Homo sapiens: one gene and its partner. The protein of the gene in region 1 purifies or fractionates together with the protein of each later gene. This does not show direct contact. Each region holds a gene or a part of one and is shown in the gene's direction. Other genes may lie near its edges.

Region 1 (16,263 bases):
AACTGGTCAAGGTTGGCAAGGGGTATAGTTACAATGGCTAATATTTATTGAGCCCTGACTATTCCAGGCACTGTTTTGCCCTTCACTTATACTGATAATTTATTCCTCATAAAATCCTATCAATAGATAGGAGGAATAAGTTCAAGAGATCTATCAGGAGATACAGCACAGTGATTGGCTGGGTGCAGTGGCCTGTAATCCCAGCACTTTGGGAGGCTGGGGTGGGTGGATCACTTGAGGTCAGGAGTTTGAGACCAGCCTGGCCAACATGGCAAAACTCTGTCTCCACTAAAATTACAATAAATAAATAAATAAATAAATAAATAAATAAATAAATAAATAAAAATTAGCTGAGTCTGGTGGCACGTACCTGTAATACCAACTTAAGCATGGGAGGCAGAGGTTGCAGTGAGCCAGGATCATGCTGCTGCACCCCAGCCTGGGCGACAGAGCGAGACCTTGTCTCAAAAAAAAATAAGTTAGCATGGTGACTATAGTTAATAACAATGTACTGTATTCTTGAAAATAACTAAGAAAGTCGATTCTAAAGTGTTCTCAATACAAAAAACAGTATGTGAGGTATGCATATGTTAATCAGCTGCATTTAGCCATTCCATAATGTATACATATTTCAAAACAACATGTTGTATATGATAAATATATACATTTTTTTGCCAGTGAAAATAAATTAGATGCTAATTAAAAAAAAAAGTCTATGAAGTGAGTACTACTATTCCTATTTTGCCAGTAAGAAAACTGAGGCGCAGACAAGTCATAAAACACAGGCCAGGCACAGTGGTTCATGCCTGTAATCCCAGCACTTTGGGAGGCCAAGGCGGACAGATCACTGAGGTCAGGAGTTTGAGACCAGCCTGGGCAACATGGTGAAACCCCGTCTCTACAAAAAATACAAAAAGAAAATAGCTGGGTATGGTGGCACACACCTGTAGAACCAGTTACTCAGGAGGCCGAGGTAGGTGGATAGATTGAGCTTGGGAAGTCTAGGCTGCAGTGAGCTGTGATTGCACCACTACACTCCAGCCTGGGCAACAGAACGAGACCATGTCTCAAAAACAAAAAACAAAAGAAATGCTCACAGGCTCCCATGGCTAGTGTGTTCTTAACCACCATGTTATCCAGCTTCTCAATGTGGTTAATTTGGATGGGGATCATGTTGAATTTGGGTGGATAGTGGGACATTCAAGTGGGAATGTCTGGAAGGGGATCATTTGTAGCTCAGGTCTGGGACCTAGCAGCCTCTGGACCTTGCCTGGAGTCCAGAGAGTTGGACATGGGTCTTTCTTTTTTTTTTTTTTTTTTCTTTTGAGATGGAGTCTCGCTCTGTCACCCAGGCTAAAGGGCACTGGCACGATCTTGGCCCACTGCAACCTCCGCCTTCCAGGTTCAAGTGATTCTCCTGTCTCAGCCTCCCAAATAGCTGGGATTACAGGCGAACACCCGCACACCTGGCTAATTTTTGTATTTTTAGTACAGACAGGGTTTCGCCATATTGGCCAGGCTGGTCTCGAACTCCTGACCTCTCAGGTGATCCTCTTGCCTGGGCCTCCCAAAGTGCTGGGATTACAGGCGTGAGCCACCATGCCCGGCCTGACATGGGTCCTTCCTGAGGCAAGTCCCTGCCTGGCCTGTTAGCCCACCCACAGCCAGGCACGATTTCCACATGGCTGGTCCCAGCTTTATGGCCTGTTTCTCCCCTCTTCACCCCCTCCCCTCCATTTCTCCTGACCACCCCATGTCCCAAACACCTGCCAAGCCCTCAGCACCTCAACACTGTGTTTTCCACTGGCATTGCCACCTCAACTCCACCTCTATCCACCAACATCCTTCCTCTCCTTCCTCTCTGTTAAGTCACTTCTGATGGTTCCAACTGATTCCATTACTCCCATTTACATCATACTTTGCTTTTACTTTCCAAGCATTTATTGAGTACCTACTACAGCCGAGGCACTTTAGATCCTGGGGATGCCAGGATGAACATAAACAGGAATAGACCCTACCCTCATTATGCCTGTAGTCATAGAAACACCTGTATACACTTGGGACGAGTGCTTTGAAGAAGTGGCAGGTGGTAGTTTTGGGGCTGTCAAGATACAAATTTGATCTGATCAAGAGGCCAGGGAAAGTTACCCTGAGAAAATGCTGCTTGGGCAGAGACCTGGAGGACAGACAGGCAAAGAGGGAAGGGAAGAGTGAGTCAGGCAGCCACTTGTGCAAAGATCCAGAGGCTGCCTGTGGTATTAATCTTGGGGCTTGTATCCTTGTTTTATTATCATGTTTATCTTCTTGTCCCCAGTGAGTAAAGCTCTTTAAGGCAGGGCCTATTTCTGGCCTGTTGCTGTCCGCTGGAGGGGTTAAGAATAAAGCTTGCCCAGGGCAGGGAGACAGTTGTTTGAATGGACTAAGGGGAAACTGCCTGTTTCTGCAGAGACCCCCAGTGCATCACCCCCAGAGTCCCTGGAGTGCAGACAGGTCATCCTGTGGCCATCTCTACCACCCTTCTTTGTGGTGGCCAGGGGCCAAGGAACAGCATCACTTCTAGCTCCAGACCCAGATTTATGTCTGTCCTTGATGAAGGTGTCTTCTTGCACTGAGCTGGGATTTCAGGTCTCCTTTGTTTGTGAGCATGGAGGTAGCCTGTCCTTGTGGGCTCCCTGCGAGTTACAGAGTTTGGGGCCACAGAAGGAACATCAGGGTGGTTGTACCAGGATGTGGGGTTTATTACGACCTCTGGGCCCTATTCTCCTCCTGCTGCCCCCTGGCCCACTCTGGCCACACCAGTCTTCTTTCCACCCCTCAAATATGCCATGACCTTTTTTTTTTTTTTTTTGAGACAGGGTCTCACTTTGTTGTACAGGCTGGAGTGCAGTGGCATGATCACGGCTTACTGCATCCTCTGCCTCCCAGGCTTAAGTGATCCTCAGGCCTCAGCCTCCCGAGTAGCTGGGACCATGACCATTTTTTATCTCAGGACTTTGTCACTGCCCCTTCCACCAGGAATGCTCTTGTTTGGATCTTCAAACAACTACCTCCTTATCATCATTTCTAAATGTTATTCCTAAATGTCTCCCTTAAAAGTTGCGTTCAGAGAGCCCCCAGGTCTGAGCACCTCGGTTAAAGGCGCCCTCTATGTTCCCTACCCCGTCACTCTCTATCCCCATTACTTGATTTTACTTTCTCTGTAGTAGGACCTAACTCCAGTCCAAAATGACCTCTTTCCAGTTACACTGCCTGCCTACAGGGATGTAAGCTACAAGAGGCAGAGTTTTGCTGGATTCTCCTCTTCTGTTTCCTAAATGACTGTAACAGAGGAGCTACTCAGTAAAATAAATGAATGAATGAATGAATGAACAAATGTCCCCTGTGGGTACATGCCTGGATTCAGGAGGCTGGGACTAGATTGAGATAAATCCACACTGAGTTTAAGATTCCAATCTAGATGGTATTGGTGGTGTCAGCCTATCTGGATTGCTCCCCATACAATTTACTGACCCCCCTATCTCTTTCTATTCACTGCCCTTCAATCATATTCTCGCAGCTCCACCATAAATTGTGTTAGCTATTTGCCCTGGGACATGCTACTTCACCTTTCTAAACTTCAGTTTCCTCCTCTGTAAAACTCCCACACTTGCAGGGTGATGGTGAGGGTTAAATAGAGTAGCTTATTTAGAGTGCTTAGTGCATGTGCCTTGTAAGTAGCAAGCTTTCTCTAGACGTTAGCTACGCTGGTGAGTTTTGTCATCCTCACCACACCTCCCTTTGTCATTTTTTTTTGACGCTCCCCTTCCTGTACCTCCCTGTGCCCCTCACGTTTGCCCACCAGGGGGCCCCACATGCCGCTCTTCCTGCCCAGGTCGTCCACGCTGACGCATGCCGCCCGCCTGTCGTCACATCAGTACCTCCCTTGTGCCTCTGATGACAGCTCTGTCACTGTCTCTGATGACAGATTTGTCCACTGGTTCTGCCTCTTCACTGCAAATATCTCAGCCCCTTGCACCCAATACTTCATTCATTCCATAAATGACAGCACCTACTATGTGCCAGGCTTCAATGGTAGGTGTTGGGGATACAAAGAGAAAGATCAGCAATGCCCTGCCTTCAAGAAGCTCACAGTCTATAGGAGGATGGCAGAGGGGTCAAGAGGCAGAGGGGGCCATGCCCTGGACTTGATGGATGAGAAGGCCAGGATCACATTGCTCTTTGGAACTAACCCGCTGGCTGGAAAATGTAAGGAAGTTCCCCCCTATCAGGCCCTCAGCTCCTCACGTTACATATTTCTACACTTACCTGAATTTCTCAGCTCAGCTCTTCATCCCTAGTGCCTCAAACTCTATTCCAGACACCTCAGTTCCTTACACCAGATGCTGCAGCCCTCGCCCCAAACTCTCATTCCAAAATCTCCTACGTCCCAAACTTTAGGAGCTCAGCCACTCACCTCAAATATCTCAGCCCCTCCTCTAAGAAATACTGCAGTCAGGCCAAGTGCTGTGGCTCATGTCTGTAACCCCAGCACTTAGGGAGGCTGAGGCAGGAGGACTGCTTGAGTTCAGGAGTTCAAGACCAGCCCAGGCAACACAGCAAGACCTCGTCTCTACTAAAAATAAAAAAAGAAATTAGTAGGACATGGTGGCTTGTGCCTGTAGTCCCAGCTACTCAGGAGACTGAGGTGGGAGGATCACTTGAGCCCAGGAGATAGAAGCTGCAGTGAGCTAGGATCATGCCACTGAACAGTCTAGGCGACATGGTGAGACTTTATCTTAAAAAAAAAAAGAAAAGAAAAAAAAAAATGCTGCACTCATTGACATAATCTGTGGTTTCAGTCTTTTTTTTTTTTTTTTTTTCCAGCTTTTAGACTCAGGAAGGATGGGAAAAAGTAGTGATTTGGAGAAGCCCACTGGTAGGCTTTTTCTGATGTACCTTCCAGGGCAAAGAGGGGCATCCTTCACTCCCTCCCAGTGTGAGGATTGCTTATTTAAATACTGTGTTTACAGTGGCTCATGCCTGTAATCACAGCACTTTGAGAGGCCAAAGCAGGAGGACAGCCTGAGGCCAGGAGTTCAAGACCAGCCTGGGCAACATAGCAAGACCCTCATTTCTACCAAAAAAAATTTAATTAAGCTCGGTATAGTGGCATGGACCTATAGTCCCAGCCATTCAGGAGGCTGAGGCAGGAGAATGGCTTGAGCCCAGGAGTTAGAGGCTGCAGTAAGTTAGGATCACACCACTGCACCACAGCCTGGGTGACAGAGTGAGACACTGTCTCAAAACAAAACAAATGTTGTATTTGCTTTCTCACTCTTTCCTATCTCCATGATCACATCTTCTCTCCAGTTTTAAATGCCGCACCATTAATAATTCTCTCAGAGTTCCTTGGAGAGAGGTCATGATCTCATCACTCCTAATTCTCCAAAACTAATCATAGAATCTCAGAGTTGGAAAGGACCCAGAAGTCCAATGGGTTCCAAACTTCTTTTTAGTCAGGGACTCTTAACTGCAACCAAATCTTATGTGGAACGTCAATATATATATGTTGACTAGCTGTTGCGGCCTGGCCTCGTAACCCCATGGATTCTGCTTAGAATATGGATTGAAAACCCCTCATGGACGTGAGACTTTGCAGGCTTCAAAGAGAAAGATGGTCCCACCCAGTGGGGTGCCTCTGGTGCTTATCAGGGTACTGATATCTTTGTCATTCCCTGTTCTCTGAGCTCTGAGCACAGCCTGAGTGCTGGTGCTGCCCAGGGGACTGGCTGCAACCAGAGCAACCCAGCCCAAAGACCCCAGGAGGTTGCCATAGACACTGAAGTGGAGGGAGCTGGTGAGCTTGTTATTATTTGTGTGTATCTTCCCTCTAATTGCTGTAGGGTAGCTGGAGGTTGTGTGGGCGCTACAGCAGTGGGGATAGAGGAGGGTGTATGTGCGAGGGTGTGTGTTTGTGTGTGCACACAGAAGTGTCTATAGGCTCCAAACCACCACCGTGGATGCGTCAGAGGCTGCGCTGTTGAGAGAAGTAGTGAGGGAGGAAGGGAAAAGTGAAGTAGAGATACAAAGGAAAAAGGAGGCTGGACAAGGTGGCTCATGCCTGTAATCCTAGCACTTTTGGAGGCCAAGACAGGATGATTGCTTGAGTCTACGAGTTTGAGACCAGCCTGGTCAAAATTGTGAGACCTCATCTCTATAAAAAAATGTAAAACTAGCTGAGTGTGGTGGCACATGCCTGTAGTCCTAGCTACTTGGGAGGGTGAAGCTGCAGTGAGCCGTGACAGCACCACTGTACTCCAGCCTGGGGGACAGAGCGAGACCCTGTCTGAGGGGTTAAAAAAAAAAGACGATGGATTGAGTTTTCTTCTAATTGTGTGAATTCTAATTTTCTACTTTATTTGAATGTTTCAAAAAGTAAAAGGCAGTGACAAACCTATGGTAGGGAGTCATATTTGTTGAAAGGCAGCTAGCTCCACTTATATAGTACTATGAGTCACCCCTGAGGCTTCACTCCAATATTTTTCTCATCACTCTTCCTTTTACCTAGAGACACAATGCAAAATGCTTTACGTGGTTACCCCAAAACACCTAGTGTTGAACCCTCCCCTCAGTCGGGATGATGTTCCTCTCACAGCAGGCACATGAGACTGGTCAGGGTTGTAGTCCTGTTTTACATTTGCCCCAGGATACTCCTAGGGGACTCCATGGCAGCCCTCCTCTGTGCTTGTTCTGACCTCTCAGGGTCTCCTCCACTCCACCTTCCATTCATGAATAGAAAGTTTCAAGTATCAGCCTGGAGGTCAGGAAGCAAGTTGCCTTGAGCACTTAGGAAGGGCACATTGATGATCAACTGATATTCAAAGTTGCTTCTGCTTTGGAGATGGATGACAGAAACTCAACACTTACTGGCATCCCCATGTATGCAATCTCATTGCCCTACCCCACACTGGGACTTGGGACCTGGCTCTCACCCAGGTGCTTTGAGATAGGAAGTGGCCTTACTCTCCACTTTACCTCCTGTTGCCCTGGGGAGGGGTAGGGCATGGTGCTCTGGCACTGCTACCCTTTCCCTTGGCCCTCTCTACCCTTCTCCCAAGAGAACTGCTAATGCTTTTCCTTTAGGGCTTCATGCCCTCCCATTCCCTAATCACCCCTACTGGGCAGTCTGGTTCCCAAAGCAGCTCTCAGGGCTGTTGGGTCAGGACAGGAGGGGAGCACTCCTGGAGAGCTCTGCCCCACCCACCCCTCAGGGAGGCAGCTTGGGAGGCTGGGACACCTCTCAGCCCCCTCCTCTGGCAGAGCGAGCCTGCTGGCGAGGGAGACCCGACTCCCAGTGGGCGTCCTGCTGTAATCAAGACTGAGTGGCAGCCTCTGGCTGAGCTCCACCCTGCCCAGTTGGGGCTGGCCTCAGCCTCAGGGGACAGCTGCCCAGGCAGGTCAGGAACCTGCCCAGCCTGTTTGTCCCCCATCAAGACAGTTATGTGCCTCTGTCCCACCAACTTGTGATGGTGGGGACAGGAGAAGGGATGGTATCTCCCTCTGCCATCCCACAAATATTTACTGAGGGTCAGGGGCTGAGTGTACAATGGTGAACAAAAGGTGCAGAGGCCCCGCTTTATTGGAGCCTACAATTCAGCGGGAAGCTAGTTTTTGTATTTTTAGTAGAGACAGGATTTCACCATGTTGGCCAGGCTGGTCTCGAACTCCTGACCTCATGATCCACCCGCCTCAGCCTCCCAAAGTGCTGGGATTACAGGTATGAGCCACCACGCCCGGCCCAGCAAATGTAGTTCTAATTAGGCACCAAGTACTATTCTAAGTGCCTTAGACCATTTAATGCTGACAGGCCTATGAGGTAGGTAATATTATTGTTCCCAGCCGGGCGAGGTGGCTCATGAAGCCACCTCTGTACTACATACATACTTCATTACTTCATGTATGTACTACATACATACTTCATTACTACAACATAATGAAGCCCCGTCTGTACTAAAAATACAAAAAAATTAGCCGAGCGTGGTGGCGCGCGCCCATAATCCCAGCTACTCGGGAGGCTGAGGCAGGAGAATCGCTTGAACCCAGGAGGTGGAGGCTGCAGTGAGCCAAGATCGCACCACTGCACTCCAGCCCGGGCAACAGCGCAAGACTCCGTCTCAAAAAAAAGATTCAGTGACTTACCCCAGGTCACAGAGCTGATCAGTGAGTTGCCTAGAAATCCAATCCAGGCAGTTTGATGCAAGTTCACGCTTAGACAGCTATGAGATAGCTCTACTGCCCCTTATACCAGTCAATGCATCACTACAAAATGTGGTAGGTGCCAGAAAATAAAAGTACGAGGGTGCCTTGCAAGAAAATGGGGATTTCCCCTTTCTTCCACTTTCTCTTCTAGCCCCCACTGCACAAAGCCTTTTCAAGTCTTCCTACTTCACCCCTTTCATTTCTGGCCGGATAGAGAATACTCTTTCATCTCTGCAGTTATGGTGCAGGAAGGCAGAGTCCTACCTGTATCCTTGCCCCTGGCCTGGTCTCCCTGATCAACCCGCGCCTGAAGGGTTTCTTTCTAATAATGGCCCTGGTGCTTGCGCAAGTCTAGACTGTCAGCTCCCAGAGGGAAGGCGGCTGGCAGCTGGCTCTGCGCAGGCTGGGGGCGCCTCCCGGGCGTGCAGCCTGGCACAGGCTCCTTGACCTTGGCTCTCTCCCCACGTGCTAGGAGCCCGGTTGGGGGCTCGGGACCCGCGTGTAGGACCCGTCCAGAGAGGTCAGTGGTCCAGACTCCTACACTCCTAACACATGCACCCTCGCATGCACGTTCCCGAGCCCGCGCGGGGTCCGCCCCGGGACAAGCCCATAAGTCGCGAACCTTCCAGCTCCGTCTGCCCAGACAGGTGGCCCGGAGCGGGGACCCCCTCCCCTCGGCTGCCCCGCGCGCCTGGCCCAGCGAGGGCGGCTCCGGGGCGGGGCGGGGCCGGCGGCGGGAGGCCCCTCCCCGGGGGCGGGCCGGGGGCCGGGCGGGGGGGGGGACTGGCGGGGCCTGGGGGCGGGGCGGGGCGGGCGGCGCGGGGGTGTCCCTCCCTCCCTCGCTCTCCCCGGTAAAGTCTCGCGGTGCTGCCGGGCTCAGCCCCGTCTCCTCCTCTTGCTCCCTCGGCCGGGCGGCGGTGACTGTGCACCGACGTCGGCGCGGGCTGCACCGCCGCGTCCGCCCGCCCGCCAGCATGGCCACCACCGCCACCTGCACCCGTTTCACCGACGACTACCAGCTCTTCGAGGAGCTTGGCAAGTACGGCCCGCCCGCCGCGGTCCCCTGCCTGCCCTGCCGCCCGGGAGCTATGCGGCTTCTCGCCCCGCCCCCCGGCCCTGCACCGGCCGCTGCGGCTCCCCCTCGGCCGCCCCACCCCCGCCTTTCCCGCCCGCCGCCTTCGGTCCCCGCGCCCCCCGCGCACTGCCCCGCATCCCCCTCCGCGCCCTGCAGCAACTGGCGGGGCCGCTGCTCCCCACGCGCCGCCGCGGACACCGCAGACCCCGGACCGCTCCCGGGTGCCCTCCAGCCCCGCCCCTCCGCACCCTTCAGGCGCCCCCCTCCCGACCACCTCCCAACGCTGCCCGGTTGCTCACTCCGCACCCTGAACCCAGGTCCCACGCGCCTCGCACTCAGGACCCTCCCCAGCCCTGCAGCCCTAGCTCTGCTGCGGAGCCCGGGCGTGGGGGGGCTGTTTGGCGCCCGGCCCCGCCCCCCGCGGGTGCCGCTCCAGGCTCCCAGCCCCGCGGCTGGGCAGTGCTGCGGCACCCCCGTCCCCTCCCCCCACCCCTGCAGTGGTCCCGGGAGCCGCGCCGCAGCCTCAGCATCCCCCTCCCCTCCGCACTGAGCTGGCCGCTGCAGCAGCCCCGGCCCCCCACCCCCACCCGCGGCGCCGAGCCCGGCCACTGCAGCCCCCGCCCCGCCCGCCCCCCCAGACGTTTCCAGAGCTCAGAGTGCGAGCTCCCGTTTGACGGGGACGTCAAGGAAAATAGCATGGGAAGGGGAGTTCTTGATGTCTGACTGTGTCCTCTCTTCCCTTGCTGTCAGTTGAGCCGGGATGCAGTGAGATGAAACCGGCTGTGGGGGGGTTTGAGCCTCACTTTGCCCCATGGTTGAGGGAGATTTCTCTTTCAGGGGATGATACCCTCTTTTTAATCTTTCCTTCCCCGACCTTCAACTGTTCCTGCTGAGAGAAGGGCAGGGTCTCTCTGCTCCCTTCTGCCCTGGTTCTCTTGGCCGGGACCGCAGGGCTGTCTGAGATGCAGCAGGTGTGTGTTTTCAGCATCGCCCACCCGCTCCTGATGTGCAGCCTGAGGTGGAGGCTGTTGCCTTGCCCAGGGACTGGATGAGGGGGTGGGAGCGCGGCACGCCACCCACATCTGTTCAGTGTCCTGCGGTGGCCGCGTCCTTTTGCCTCATGTTGGATGGTGGTGGTCACAGCGCCGGTGTGTGTGCATGTACGTGAGTGTGACTAGAGGTCTGGTGGTGGGAGCATCATCGTCCCCAGACTTGAAGTGTGTCTGTGTCACTCTGCCCTGCTCCGTGTCCCAGTTCTTTTCCCCTTCTCCCTCCAGGGGTGCTTTCTCTGTGGTCCGCAGGTGTGTGAAGAAAACCTCCACGCAGGAGTACGCAGCAAAAATCATCAATACCAAGAAGTTGTCTGCCCGGGGTGAGTGTTCCCTGTCTTGACCTCTTCCTGAGGGTGCCTCCAGGGGCCATGGTTTCTTTTGAGGAAGCCCCAGGAATTGGGGGTTGTGCGTTTTAGCACTTGGAGAGGAGTTGGAATTTCAGACTGGTTGGACTTTGTGTCAGGCTGAAGCCAGAAAAGGAGTTGCATGGGGGACTGGAAGCGCCCAGGTACAAAAGAATGAAGGAAGAGATGCAAGTAGCTGCAGTGGCCCCCAAAGGCTCAAGGGAGTTCGGTCTTCAGGGAGGTGGAGGATATGGGGGTAGTGGGTGGTACAGAATGGGGAGCTCTTAATTTGGGGCATTTGGAGCCTCTCCCTTTGGGGCAGTGGTGGCTACTGCAGGCCTTTCCTGGTCCCTGTGCCCCAGTGGTGACTTAGGATGGAAATGCAGTAAGTGAGCAGCTCTGACAAAGCCAGCCTCCCCTGCCCACCAGGCGGCAGAACAGACTCCCAAGGGAAGGGAATCTGTAAACATCAGGGGAGGCTGCTACTGGCGAGGGCTTCTCAGGAACAAATTCTGCCAGATGAACTTGATTGCTTTTTTGATCAAATTACAAAGTTGGTGGTGCAGCAGCAGATGTAGTCTGTCCTGGGTGGAGGGTGATGCCTCATGGTCTAGAAATCCCAAAGGCCCGGTTTGGGCAGGAACTGCACTGCCTCCGAGTCTGAGGAGCATAAAGGCCAAGGCCTTGGGGCCTCACTTGCGAGATCCTCCCAAGTACCTGAGGCTTGGAGGGTCAGGGCCTGTCTTTCACACCTTGAACCTACACTCTCTGAACTTCCTATTGGGTACTTGCCAAACTCACCTCATCTGATAGGTGTAGACCCAGCAATGTGTGAAGTGCTCTGGGAACAGGTCTGGTGAGTACAGAGGTCAGATCTCGGAGGGCTGCAGGGTGCAGCTGGGGGACAAAGGTTGTGAAACTCAGAGAAAGGAATTAGGGCTGGGCAGTAGGATGCCATAAATATATTAGGAGCCAGGACACATGCCCTGGGGAAGACATGGGCTTTGGCCAATAATGACACGGGTTTCTCTGGGATAAGAGACATAATAGATGTCCCAAATGCTTAGAGAAGCTCTACAATTCCACGGGCTTCTGTCGTGTTGGCAGTTGTTCTGGGACCTGTTTAGCAGGGCCGTGTCCACTCCCTGACTGGGGACTCTCTCTCCATCCCTCTAGTAGGGCACTAATTGCTGACTCCCATCCAGCTCCATCTCTTGCTGTTCGTGTACATTGCCTATAAAGTTGGACTTGTTTGTTTTCTTTCTCTCTGGGTACCTTGAGTCTGAGGATGGTTGCCATAGAGATATGTGGGCAGTCAGATACCCTGGAGTGGGGGTGGGGGGGACAACAGGGGCTGGGCTCTCTGGCAGACATCCTCTGGCCAAGGATGGAAGGTGCAGGCAGGAACAATGGCTTGAGGCTGGATACCTCTCTTGCCCACACAGCAGAGCCCTGGTGCATCAGAAACAGGGCTGGCATCTGGTGTCTCCAGTTGATGATGCAATGCTTTGCTCTCTTCATCTCACCAGTGTCCTCTGACCCATGGGTAAGAGAAGGAGAGATGGCTGGGAGCCGAATTCTGGGATGTGAGGATAGGTGATGTGGTGACTTCCTGCAGCTGCCTGACTGGGGCTTTCATTTCCTACTCCTTCCCTACCTGCGTAAATTTCCATGACCTGTGTGATAGCCTCCCTTTCCCTTCCTCACCTCCTTTTAACCTTGTCCCATCTTTCCCAATGGATATCTTTCCCTGGCCAAACTGGATGAGACTTGATTTCTCGTTGATTTTTTTTTTTTTCCCCTCAAGAAGAGGATTCTTGTGTAAAAGTATATGCTTCAGACAGCAACTCCCCCTCTCCCAAGATGGATATGCCAAGACTGGGCTCTGTTGTGTGGCCTCATGTGCCAGGTTGACTTTGGGACAGAGGCACAGATGATAGGCACAGATGCCAGCCAGAGGGGTCAGAATGTGTAAGTGCCAGCCAGTACTGTGTGGAGGTGGGAAAGTGGAAAGGGGCTGTCTTGGAGATGGAGGGAACAAGGTGGGGCTGGACTATAGGTGTGGGCATGGGAGATGTGAACTCCTGGAGAGATCTGGGCCAGGGTAGCCATGGGCTGGTTCCCATGGGGTTAGGGAGTGAGGGCCATGGCTTCCCTGCAGACTCTCAGTTTACACTATATATTTTATAAAGGTGCAGCCACTGGAGCTGGGTTTCACTCATCGCTGTCTGCCTAGGTCTCCGCAGGTGTTGGATTTCTGTGTCTGGGAATGTCGTGGGCCCACCAGGGTCATCTGTGAAGGTCTGAAGGGGCTTGCTGTGTTCACTGGGTCTTCCTGCCTCCTGTCTTTCTTGTTTGTGATTCTCTGGGCTACAAACTGAAAAGATAAAAAGAGGGTATAGAGCTGTTTCTCCTTGGCATCCCTGGTGAGGTGGCTAGGAGTCAGGGAGAGGGATCACCTGTTCTTCTGGGGGGGTCCAATCGAGACAGGAAGCCTTCTTTTGGGCTGTTGTGTCTTGTCACTGTGGCCTCAGAGGCCCACATTGGCGGCTAGGTTGCAAGGTGGGGAGTTCATGCGGATATGCGTTGAGCACTGTCTTTGTCTGCGGGCCTGTCTACATAAAGTCACTGAAAGTCACATAACGTCACTCCGTTTGCTTCAGAACCGTGATAGGAGTGGAGCTGGGCTCTTAAGGGAGCCCATGGTTCCAAGCTTAGCTCCACTAGGCCGAAGGAGGCATTTAAAATAGGCTTGGATGCAGGAGCTAGTGGGCCAGGTGATGGCAATGATAAGTCGTTATTTTAAGATTTAAGAGCACCCCCCTCAAGGAGCCTGAGCCCTTATGTCTTTTTTTATTTTTAAATCTTCATATTCCCTTCTTATCTTTATTCATATGCATACAGATTTTCACCTCGTGGAGCATAACATTTTATATCCTGCTCTCTTTGCTTATATCCAAAGCATTTCCCCCATATTACTACAGTTGAAGGGCAAATGGTCCTTTCTTCTACGTCGTTTAGGATTTATCCCTAAAACAATCAGCATCACAAGAAACTTCTGTATATGTACCATTTATCTGGATTCCAGTTGCTTTTACCAAGATAGATACTGGGGTAATGCCCTTGGCCTTACTAAGAGATGCTACCGGAAACAGTGTTTTGAAATCTGTTATAATACTTTAACATATTTATTTAATCTGTACATTCCGTGTGAAGAAATTTCTTTTGAAGCTAAATGTAAGCAAAAGCTTTCCTCTTTGTGAGGACCTGAGAGGTGAGGGAAGGGTCCTTATGTGTTTCTATACTTCTGCATGGGCAGGCCCTAGCGAAGTGCCTGACGTATGCCAGCCACATACACATTAAATGAATGGGTCAAGAGGACTATGTAACCAATCATGGTTGCCTTTTGGCTTTGGCTCCTAGGAAACTCAGAGTCAAGTTGCCAGAGCCCTTGTACCCTGCTACAGACTTGGGTCCTCCCTTTCTGATCCAGGGAGCCAAGCTGCAGACCTGATACGGCTGCTGGAAGAGAGGACAGATGAGGATAAAGACCTGTGCTTGGGGCATAAGGCAGAGTGGGAGATGTAGGCAGACATTTAGCTGATGATTCCTCCTTCCCTGTCACTAAATGGCACTATAGGGCCACTGTTGGGATCTCTTCCAGGTAGTGATTTTCAATTTTAGTGTGCGTAAGGATCACCCTGAGTACTAGTTTAAAAAATACAGACTTCTGGGCTTTAGCCACAGAGATTCTGCTTTAGGAGGTCTAGGGTGGAGCTGCAGAATCTGCATTTTTAACACATGCTCCAGTGAATTTCATGCAGGTGAGGCATGAGCCACTCTTTAAGAGATGCCACCTAAAATCTGCAACAACAGTTGCTCTTGCCATGCCCTCTGGAATTCAACAGACACACCTTGGCCCATCCTTCTCCAGATTGTGTGTCTGCCACTATGTGGCCATCTGTGCACATGGGCTGTTCTGTGATTAGGGGCCTCGTTCTGGGCCTCGGGATTGGGGTGTCTGTGTCTGAGGCTGCGGCAAGCTGGGTGGCTCGGGTTGTGGCATGTTGGCCACCAGAAGGGTAAAGGCTGTCCCTTTCTGGGTCCAGCTGGCCCTGGGGACTGAAATGGGATCCCCTGGATGGTGCCAGCTGAGAGTCCCCGCCCCCTTAGTGTTGGCCTGAGTAGCCCCCATGACATTTGTGTCCCCTGTGGTATCTCCAAGTGAGACTTTCCTGTTAAGGATCTGGGTGAAGTGAGGGAAAGAGAAGGGAGGGGGAAGCAGTAATGCAGGGAGTGGGAGAAGGAAGAGAAATCCACACAGCACTGGAACACAGGCCTCGAGGAAGCATTTAAGGAGGCTGTGTGCGAAACCATGCTTTCCTCCTGAGGATAAAACAGGCCAATTTCTGTAAACAGAGAAATGGGCATCCTGCATATCAGTGATGGAGCGCCTCTACTTTCTCTCCTGAAGGGATGGAAGCCGACTGCAGGTCCCTCTGTGCAAAGGCTTCTGCCAGGCGGCTTTTGTCACGCGGTCACGTTGAGCTGTGGGCCTTAGCACACACAACACTGGCCTGTCCCCCTCCCCTCCCACCTGTCTTCCTAGAGTGACTTGGGGTGCTGCATCATGGTGTGGGGATGGAGGTGGGAAGGTTGCCCTGTCCTGTCAGGGAGGCCCCTGCCTTCTTCCTGCTGCTTCCTCTGGTCCCTTGTCACCATACCCTTGTTCGAAGCTGTGCTGAAACCCTAGAGGTGAGTGGCTGACCCCATTCTCTGCTGAGACTGGAGATAGGGAAGGGGAGGCTGGGTGTGACCATTCCTGCTCCCATCTGTATGCTTGCTGCTCTCTGAACAGCTTTGGCAGACCAACAAGGGCCTGATCCCATGGGTGCCAAAAGGGTGGTGACAGGAGGAGATGGGCACTTTGCACCTCTTGAATGCCTCTCTGCAGAGCCCCTTTGTCACCTACCCATGGCCAGACAGATCTGCCGCAGGACCGCTGGGGAAATCAAAGCACAAAAGCTTTGTCTGGGGTCTTTTTTTTCTTTTTTGGTTTTGTGCTGCAGGTGCCCATGACTTTGCCAGGGCTCAGACCCAGCGTCCTCAGGCCGTGTGGCCTCCACCCACTCCTTGGCGCCTTTCTTTAAAACACAGGTTCTGGATACTTTGTTCCTGTGATGAATCTTGGCATATCACCTCACACCTCTCCATCTAGGCCCCAAGCTCCAAGCCTGGTGGAGCAAATCCCTCCTCGTTGCTGGCTGAGGCCCCATTCCCGTCTGTACCCACCTCTCTGGGCTGTGCGGTGGGGAGATTTCCAGCCACTCCTCCCCAACACCATCTCCGCTTCCTGGGCCCTATCAGCAGCAGCCGCAGCTTCCCATCTGCTCCCCTCTTTTCTCCTCCCTTTCTTTCCCTTCCCCCCTGCTTGCTGCTGCCCTGGGAGGAGCTATTTTTAGGGGCTGCTTCCTGGGATGTTTTACTTGGGGCTGGTTACCATGAAGGAAATGTCACCAAAACAGTGGGCAAAGGCTGCAGGCACCGGGAGCCC
Region 2 (7,011 bases), on another chromosome or scaffold:
GGCTTGGCCTGCCATCCAATGCCCAGGTGAAGGAACCGAGCCCAGAAGGCAGGCACAGAGGCCTGGGCTGGGCTGTCCCACAGCCACGTTCTTCTCTACGTCTTGCCATCACTGTCTGATGCCGCTGCCTGTGCCTCAGTTTCCCCATCTGGATTGGAGGGAGGAGACGAGATCAAGGGGAAACTGATGTGTGCTGAGCCTCCCTTCTGTGCTGGGCCCTGCTGGGGCTGACCTTCCCCTTTCTTATCCCACCAGCTTGAGTGTGGGGCTCGGTGCACAGTCTGGGCTATCAAATACTTATTTTTGATCCTGGAATGTCTGTGCTGAAAGGGTCCATGGAGATGGCCTGGTCCTGTGGTTCTTATTTCTAGAGTCCTGGGGTTTGGTGAAGGAGTTTCAGATGAAGTTTCAGGGGGAAGCTGGAGTAAGGCCCTAGGACCCCCACCTTTGCTTCAAGCAGGTTTTATCTACTTTGGATTTGGGAAAACTGGTTTTGCCGCTGAAAAGATGTGATCTTCTCCAGGTTTCCCATTGGATGATGTAGAGTCAGAGGCAGCTTTTTCAAAGCCACAAAGAAAGCCTATAGCAAATAATAACAACCACTTTTATTGAGGACTGATTCTGTGCTAGGCGTGGTGTGTGTATGATCTCCTCCCCACAATAAACCACCAAGTAATAATGATTCTTATGCCAATTTGACAGATGAAAAAACTTAGGCACAGAGAGTGAAAGGATCACAGACCTAGGAAATGACCGAGCAGGGCTTTGAACTTTTTTTTTTGAGATGGCGTCTCGCTCTGTTGTCCATGCTGGAATGCAGTGGTGCAATCATGGCTCACTGCAGCTTCAATTTCCCTGGCTCAAACAATCCTCCCTGATCAGCCTCCCGAGTAGCTGGGATCACAAGTGTGCCCCACCATGCCCGATTCCTTTTTAAATTTTTTGTAGAGATGAGGGTCTCACTATATTGCCCAGGCTGGTCTACAACTCCTACACTCAAGCAATCCGACTGCCTCAGCCTCCCAAAGTACTGGGATTATAGGTGTGAGCCACCACGCCCAACCAGGGCTTTGAACTTGACTGCCCCAGTGGGCTCTTCATCCTAGACTACTGCCCCAGACCATGTACTGCCAGGCTTCCTTGTGGGGAGGTGGGGAGGGAAGCCTTCATTCCTGCCTTATTAGGTTCCTTCACCTGGGTCTGGCCTCCTCAACACAGCTCTGGGCCTCTGGTTCAGAGCCAGCCTCTTGGCTTTGGGGAATGAGTGTAAACAGGTAGGAATGGAGTCCCAGCACATGTGTTGACTTCAAGATGAAGAGATGCCCCCACCAAATGCTGGAAGGAACGGAGGACTGAGTGAGGCCTTTGTGATAAAGACAAGTGGGAGGAATGGAGGTGGAGGAAAGCCATACTGATTCGCAATTTGCCCTTGCAGAACTTCTGTGTGACCCTGGGGACATCACTCCACCTTCAGGCACCTTGTCTGTGAAATGGGCCTGACAGTCCCAGTCCCCTCCACTTCCGAAGCTTAGCGATTAATGAGCGAATAGTCATGGAGATGCTTTTCAAGCTGTCAAGCACCATGTGCTGGGAGGCGCGTGTGCTTCCTGAAGGGGGTGGGTACTGAGTTGGGAACATGGGATGCTGTCACCTTTAACCTTATTTGGAACAAGGCAAGGTAAACATAAAAACAGATGGGGTGGAAATTGGACTTCTCTTCTTGCTCTCACTTGCTGTGTGTGCAGGGATTCGTCAGTCCTCGCTGGGTCTTTCTGCTTACCTTCTGTGCAGTGGGACTGTCGTAGGTGCTCAGCGTGTAAATTGCTTTGTGCCTCTCAGCAGCAAGGAAGGAGCCAGGCGGATGTGAGATGAATGGGGTGGTCCCAGCCCTGTATGCTGTCACCACTGCAGGGAGTCCCCTACGGAATCAGGGCTGGCCACAGTGGCTTCTCCTGGCTCTATCACTAGGCTGTGACCTTGGGCAAGTCACTTATCCTCTTTCTGCTATGTCAGTTAAACAGGGATGCAACGTCTCCTCTTTCTACCTCAAAAGGTATTTATTTTGAGAAGCAAGGTCAATAATAGATGTGAAAATGCGTTGGAGGAAAATAAGAAAGGGGACAAATGTCAGCGCTTCTTGGAACTTTATCATCCTGCTTGTTACGCTCTTGTTTTCTCTCTTAGCACTTGGCTTTGGCACTAACCTCAAAGCAGGCACTTGGGAAAGTCCTAATGAATGAGCCAGGTGGCTTGTGGAGAGGAACAAGGTCAGTCTGGGGACCTGAGGCTTCTGCCATCGACAAACTGTGGGATTTGGGGCTAGCCCCTGGCCCTCTGGACTTCTGTTTCCCCATATGGAAATGAGGGATAGGCCCAGCTCATCTCTAAGGATTCTCCCAGCTCATGTGGTCCTGAAATGGAAACAAATGAAGTGCTACCGTTCTTTCTCACTCATTAAGTCATCTCTCAAATGTCTATTGCACATCCACTCTCAGCCAGGCATCAGAGCCTGATTTTATTTTTGTTTTCATAACTGTCCTGCAGGGTACACAGGTACTGGCTAGCCATATACCCATTTGACAGCTGAGACCATGGAAGCTCAGAGAGGAGAGATGACCCACCCAGGGTCACACAGTCAGCAAACCACGGGGTTGGGATTCAAACCCAGACCTAAATCCAAGGGACATGCTTATTCCACCTGCCACATTGCTTCAGTCTCCCTTTTCTCTGCTCCCTTCCTCCTCCCCCCATGGATTCTGGCTTCCCGAGGCCAGCCAATCCTTTTACACCGTTTGGAGAGGGGGCTGGACTGACTCCCCCCTCCACCAGATGTTATACCAGGAAAAAACCTTCCCCTTCTGCCTCCAGCTCCCACCCGCCAGAGTTCTAGATAGGAGGGGAGAGCTCCTTTCACTGTTGATGGGACCCCTTGCAGGGCAGCAGGATGAGCCAGGTGAGACTCACCTGGGCCACCTGGATGTGTTTCCTAGCCCTGCCTCCAGCAGCTGGCATGACCTTGGGGTGGTTGCCCCTCCCTGTGGTCAGGCCGGCTCTACTAAGCAAAGACGGTCTCCAGCGGAGGGCAGGTGCTGTTGGCTCCGGCGAGGATAATGAGCGCTCCTCATGCACCTTGCCCCCTCGGAGTTACCATCTGCTTGGCAGATGCGCCTCCCAGGCCTCTGGGGCTGCCCCAGTCTCCCTCCCGGCATCGAGGAGCCCGCTCCTCCTCTCAGAGGCCATAGTCTCTCCACAGGGCGCACGGCTGTTGCTGGAAGGGAGACCCCCGAGGGCAGAGGGCGGCAGACCCGGGACGTCCCCAGCGGAGGCAGCGGACGCCGGGAGCCAGGCATCCCGGGCGAGCCCGGCGTAATGAGGCGCTCCCTTCTCCTGCGGGAGGCGGGGCTGCCCCTTCCCTCTCCCCCTCCCCCTCCTGGAGGCCCTGCGGGAGCCGGAGTCCAGCGCAGTTGGGCGGGGGCGTGGGGGAGTGAGGCCTTCCAGGTCGGACTGAGCCGGGGCGGGAGGAGAGTGTGAGGCCCCAGTGGCTGGGCCCTCAGGGTCTGAATTGGGGAGCAAGTGTGGTGGGGAGGAAGGGCTCCCCGGTTTGCAGATGGCGGGGGAGGCTATGTCCGCGGGTCGCCCTGGAGCCCTCCGATCTTTGCCCCGCAGCATCTGCCCCCCAGGGGGGTCAGCATGCTTCCGCCCTTCCCCGCGTGTGCGTCGTCTGTCCGCTCCCTCTCCAGCTCCCGGAACCCCCACTCCCCCCGAGGTCCCCTCGGGAGGCAAAGCCGGCTGCGGGGCGGGCGCGCACCAGCTCCGGGCCCCGTAAACACCCGTGAGCGGGACGGCGGGGGCTGGGGGCGGGGGCAGGAAGCTAGCGGCAGCCCGGGCCGGCCGGCGCGGCCCCGTGACGTCGCTCCGCTCGCAGGGATCTCTCCCCGAGGCCCGCGGGTCCCCTCCTCCCCGCCTCCTCCCGCCCTCCTCCCCGCGCCTCGCCTCGGCGCCGCGGCCGGCATTTCTCCTCGCAGCTCGCTGCCTCCTCTATCCCTGCCTCCCTCTCCCCCCTCTGTTTTTCTCCCTTCCTTCCCTCTCCGACCCTCTTCCTCTCCCTCCCGATCCTTTCCCTCCTCCTCTCATCTTTCCCCTGTCTCTCCGTTCTAGCTCGTCCCCCACCCCACCTTTTCTTCTTTCTCCTCCTCTCCTTCCTCTCCCCCTCTCCTCTGTCTCCTTCCACCGTCTCCCCTGCCTCCCTGTCTTTCAGTCCCTGTTTTTCAGCCCCGTCTCCCTCTCGGTTTCTCTCCCCCACCCTCCCTCCGGGTTTCCTCCCCGGTGCCCTCCCTCCTCTCTCCCTCCCCTCCCCCTCCGCCCCTCGCAGCCCCGCCGCTCGCAGCTCCCAGTCTGCCTCCCCGAACCGGCGCCGCCGCCCGCACTCGCCGCAGGACCGGCCCGCCCGGCTCCCGGGGTGCGCCCTCCTCGGTCCCGCGCCCTCCGGGCTCGCAGGGACGTCTCCTCCCTCCCGGCTCGCGGCCCCGCCCGGCCCGGCCCCCGCCCAGAGCCCCAGCGCGCCGAGGATGTGAGTCCTGCTCGCCTCTGGCGGAGCAGCAGCCACTCGCGCGCGGAGCCGGAGCGCAGCGCAGCGCAGCCGCGGGCGCTCTCCGGGCCGCTCGCGCGAGTGCCGCGCTCTTGCCCTAGCGGCGTCCCCCGGCCTCTCGCCGGCGCCACCGCCGCAGCAGCCCGCGGGCCGTCCCCGGCCGGCCGCCCCCGGCCCCAGCGCCGCTGACCCTGTCCGCCGCGGGCGGGGACGCGGGCGGAGGAGGCGCCGCGGCGGAGCCCCCGGACGCGACCATGTCGGAGGTGCTGCCCTACGGCGACGAGAAGCTGAGCCCCTACGGCGACGGCGGCGACGTGGGCCAGATCTTCTCCTGCCGCCTGCAGGACACCAACAACTTCTTCGGCGCCGGGCAGAACAAGCGGCCGCCCAAGCTGGGCCAGATCGGCCGGAGCAAGCGGGGTGAGTTCGCGGCCCCCTTGTCTGACACCCCCTTTTTCCCGCGCCGCGGCCTGAACAAGGGTTGCGGAGGTCTCCCACCCGCTGGAGCCCGTTCAGACCTGACGGAATCCCTTCTTGCAGAATTGGGGGATCCCGCACTGCGGGTCCGGCTGAAGCGGGTCGCAGGAACGCGTCCCCCTAAGCCGGATCCCCGGCTGGGTCACCCTGGGGGCGTGGCGGCTTCTAGCAGCAGCTGGGGGTCTCCACCCGCGCGGCAAAGTTTGCTTTTTGATTTGCGCCCCCCACCCCCGCCTTTTGCGCAGTGTAGTCACAGCTGCACTCGCTCCATAACCCTGTGGGGAGGGGGTCCCAGGGACCCCCAGGGGACGGCGTGGGGACCTGCGTGGGGAGGATCCCATTCCTGCGGGGAAGGCTAGGGTGTTCGGGTCGCACGGGCTTTTCATTGTTACTTGGCTTGGGAGGGGGTTTGCCAGGCCTGGGCGATCCGCGCGAGAGCTGGAAAAGCCCCAGAGAGGCGGAGACGCAGAGAGGCTCCGAGAGGAGCTCCAGAGACGCGGGGACAATGAGGGGGACCGACGGCTGCAGAGAGAGACTGAGACGCAGGGATGGAGGGGAGGGGGTACGCGGGAGACCGAGGGTGGCAGAGACCGAGACAAAGCTCCCGAGAGGGGAGCTGAAGCGGGAGAGACAGAGCCGAGGACGCGCGTTTGGGGAGGACGCAGAAGCCGCCGAAACAATAAGGGCGACCGACACCTTAGACAGGGAGAGACAGAGACCTCGATCGGCTGCCGGCCGTCGCGCCGAGGGACGATGGAGGGACTGAGAAAGGCGAGGCTAAGTCGAGACGGTAAGAGAGGCCGAGGTTACGGCATGTGTCCCTGGCAGGCAGCGAAGGGAGGCTCTGACCTCTGCGGCAGCGGGGAGCGCGGGGCGGCCGAGTCAGTCGGCCAGCGGCTGGGAGAGGGCGCGCAGGAGGGGGCGCCCGCCCAGGCCAGGCCCTAACCCCCACCCGCTGCGCGTCGTGGGAACCGGTTTTGGCGTCCCCTCCTGGTTCCGCTCATCTCCGCACCTAGCCTTGCCCACCGGAGCTGCGCTCGGGACTTACCTGGGGTCCCGAGACCCAAAGACTTTGGCTCCCTCTCCTATCCCAGCTCCAGACATTTCTGTCTAAATTAGTGCGCCTGGTGCGGGGAGGACGCGGGCCAGTGCGCGCCCTGGCTGCAGCAGGAGCGGCTGGGTTGGCGCCCTCTGTTTCCTTTTCTCAGAATGGAGCTGGGACGCAGGCTGGAGGATAGAGGGTGGTGGGTGGTTCAGAGGAAAGCAGGGAAGGGACCCCTGGCAGGGACGGAGGATGGAGCTGTTTCACCGCGCAGTGAGCCCTGCTCCCTCGCCCTCTCCTCTCCCGACCTCCCACTCTGGGCATAACGGGAAATGTCAGAGACCTCTGGCTAGGCCCCAGCGCGCTCACCTCTCTTTTCCCCCCTTTTTTTGCAGTTGTTATTGAAGATGATAGGATTGATGACGTGCTGAAAAATATGACCGACAAGGCACCTCCTGGTGTCTAACTCCCCCAAAGACAATGAGTTAAGGGAGAGAATAAGAACGGCGGTAACAGTTATTGGCAAAAAGCATGAAAAGAGAAAGCACTTTGAAATTTATTACTAGCTTGCTACCCACGATGAAATCAACAACCTGTATCTGGTATCAGGCCGGGAGACAGATGAGGCGAGAGGAGGAGGAGGAGGAGGAGAAGGCTCTGGGCTCCTCTGCAAAAATAAAAATAAAAAAATAAATAAAATTTTAAAAATAATAAAAATTCACTATATACACATATAAAGAAATAAAAAGAAGTCTCAGTTGCAGCTATTTGTCAAAATTAATATCCATTTCTTTTTATATACGGTGAATATTGCGCAATTATAGATCTGGATTTTGAACCACTTAATGAAGCGGCAACACCAGGTGTTTTGAGGTGTTGGCATTCTTCGCTGATTTGGCTGTTC

What was found.
Region 2: the proteins of CAMK2G (region 1) and CAMK2N1 purify together in Homo sapiens (affinity purification with mass spectrometry; 2 studies listed by BioGRID and IntAct, with this or other methods). This does not show direct contact.

What each region holds. Positions count from the first base shown.
Region 1 is NC_000010.11:73,867,411-73,883,673, reverse strand, and holds the start of CAMK2G (calcium/calmodulin-dependent protein kinase type II subunit gamma), read left to right. Parts: upstream 1-9,118; 5' UTR 9,119-9,212; coding exon 9,213-9,277; exon of another isoform or gene 9,278-10,471; coding exon of another isoform or gene 10,472-10,473; intron 10,474-10,590; coding exon 10,591-10,685; intron 10,686-16,263.
Region 2 is NC_000001.11:20,483,211-20,490,221, reverse strand, and holds the start of CAMK2N1 (calcium/calmodulin-dependent protein kinase II inhibitor 1), read left to right. Parts: upstream 1-4,011; 5' UTR 4,012-4,842; coding exon 4,843-5,008; intron 5,009-6,502; coding exon 6,503-6,573; 3' UTR 6,574-7,011. UniProt on the Homo sapiens protein: Potent and specific inhibitor of CaM-kinase II (CAMK2). Plays a role in the maintenance of long-term retrieval-induced memory in response to contextual fear.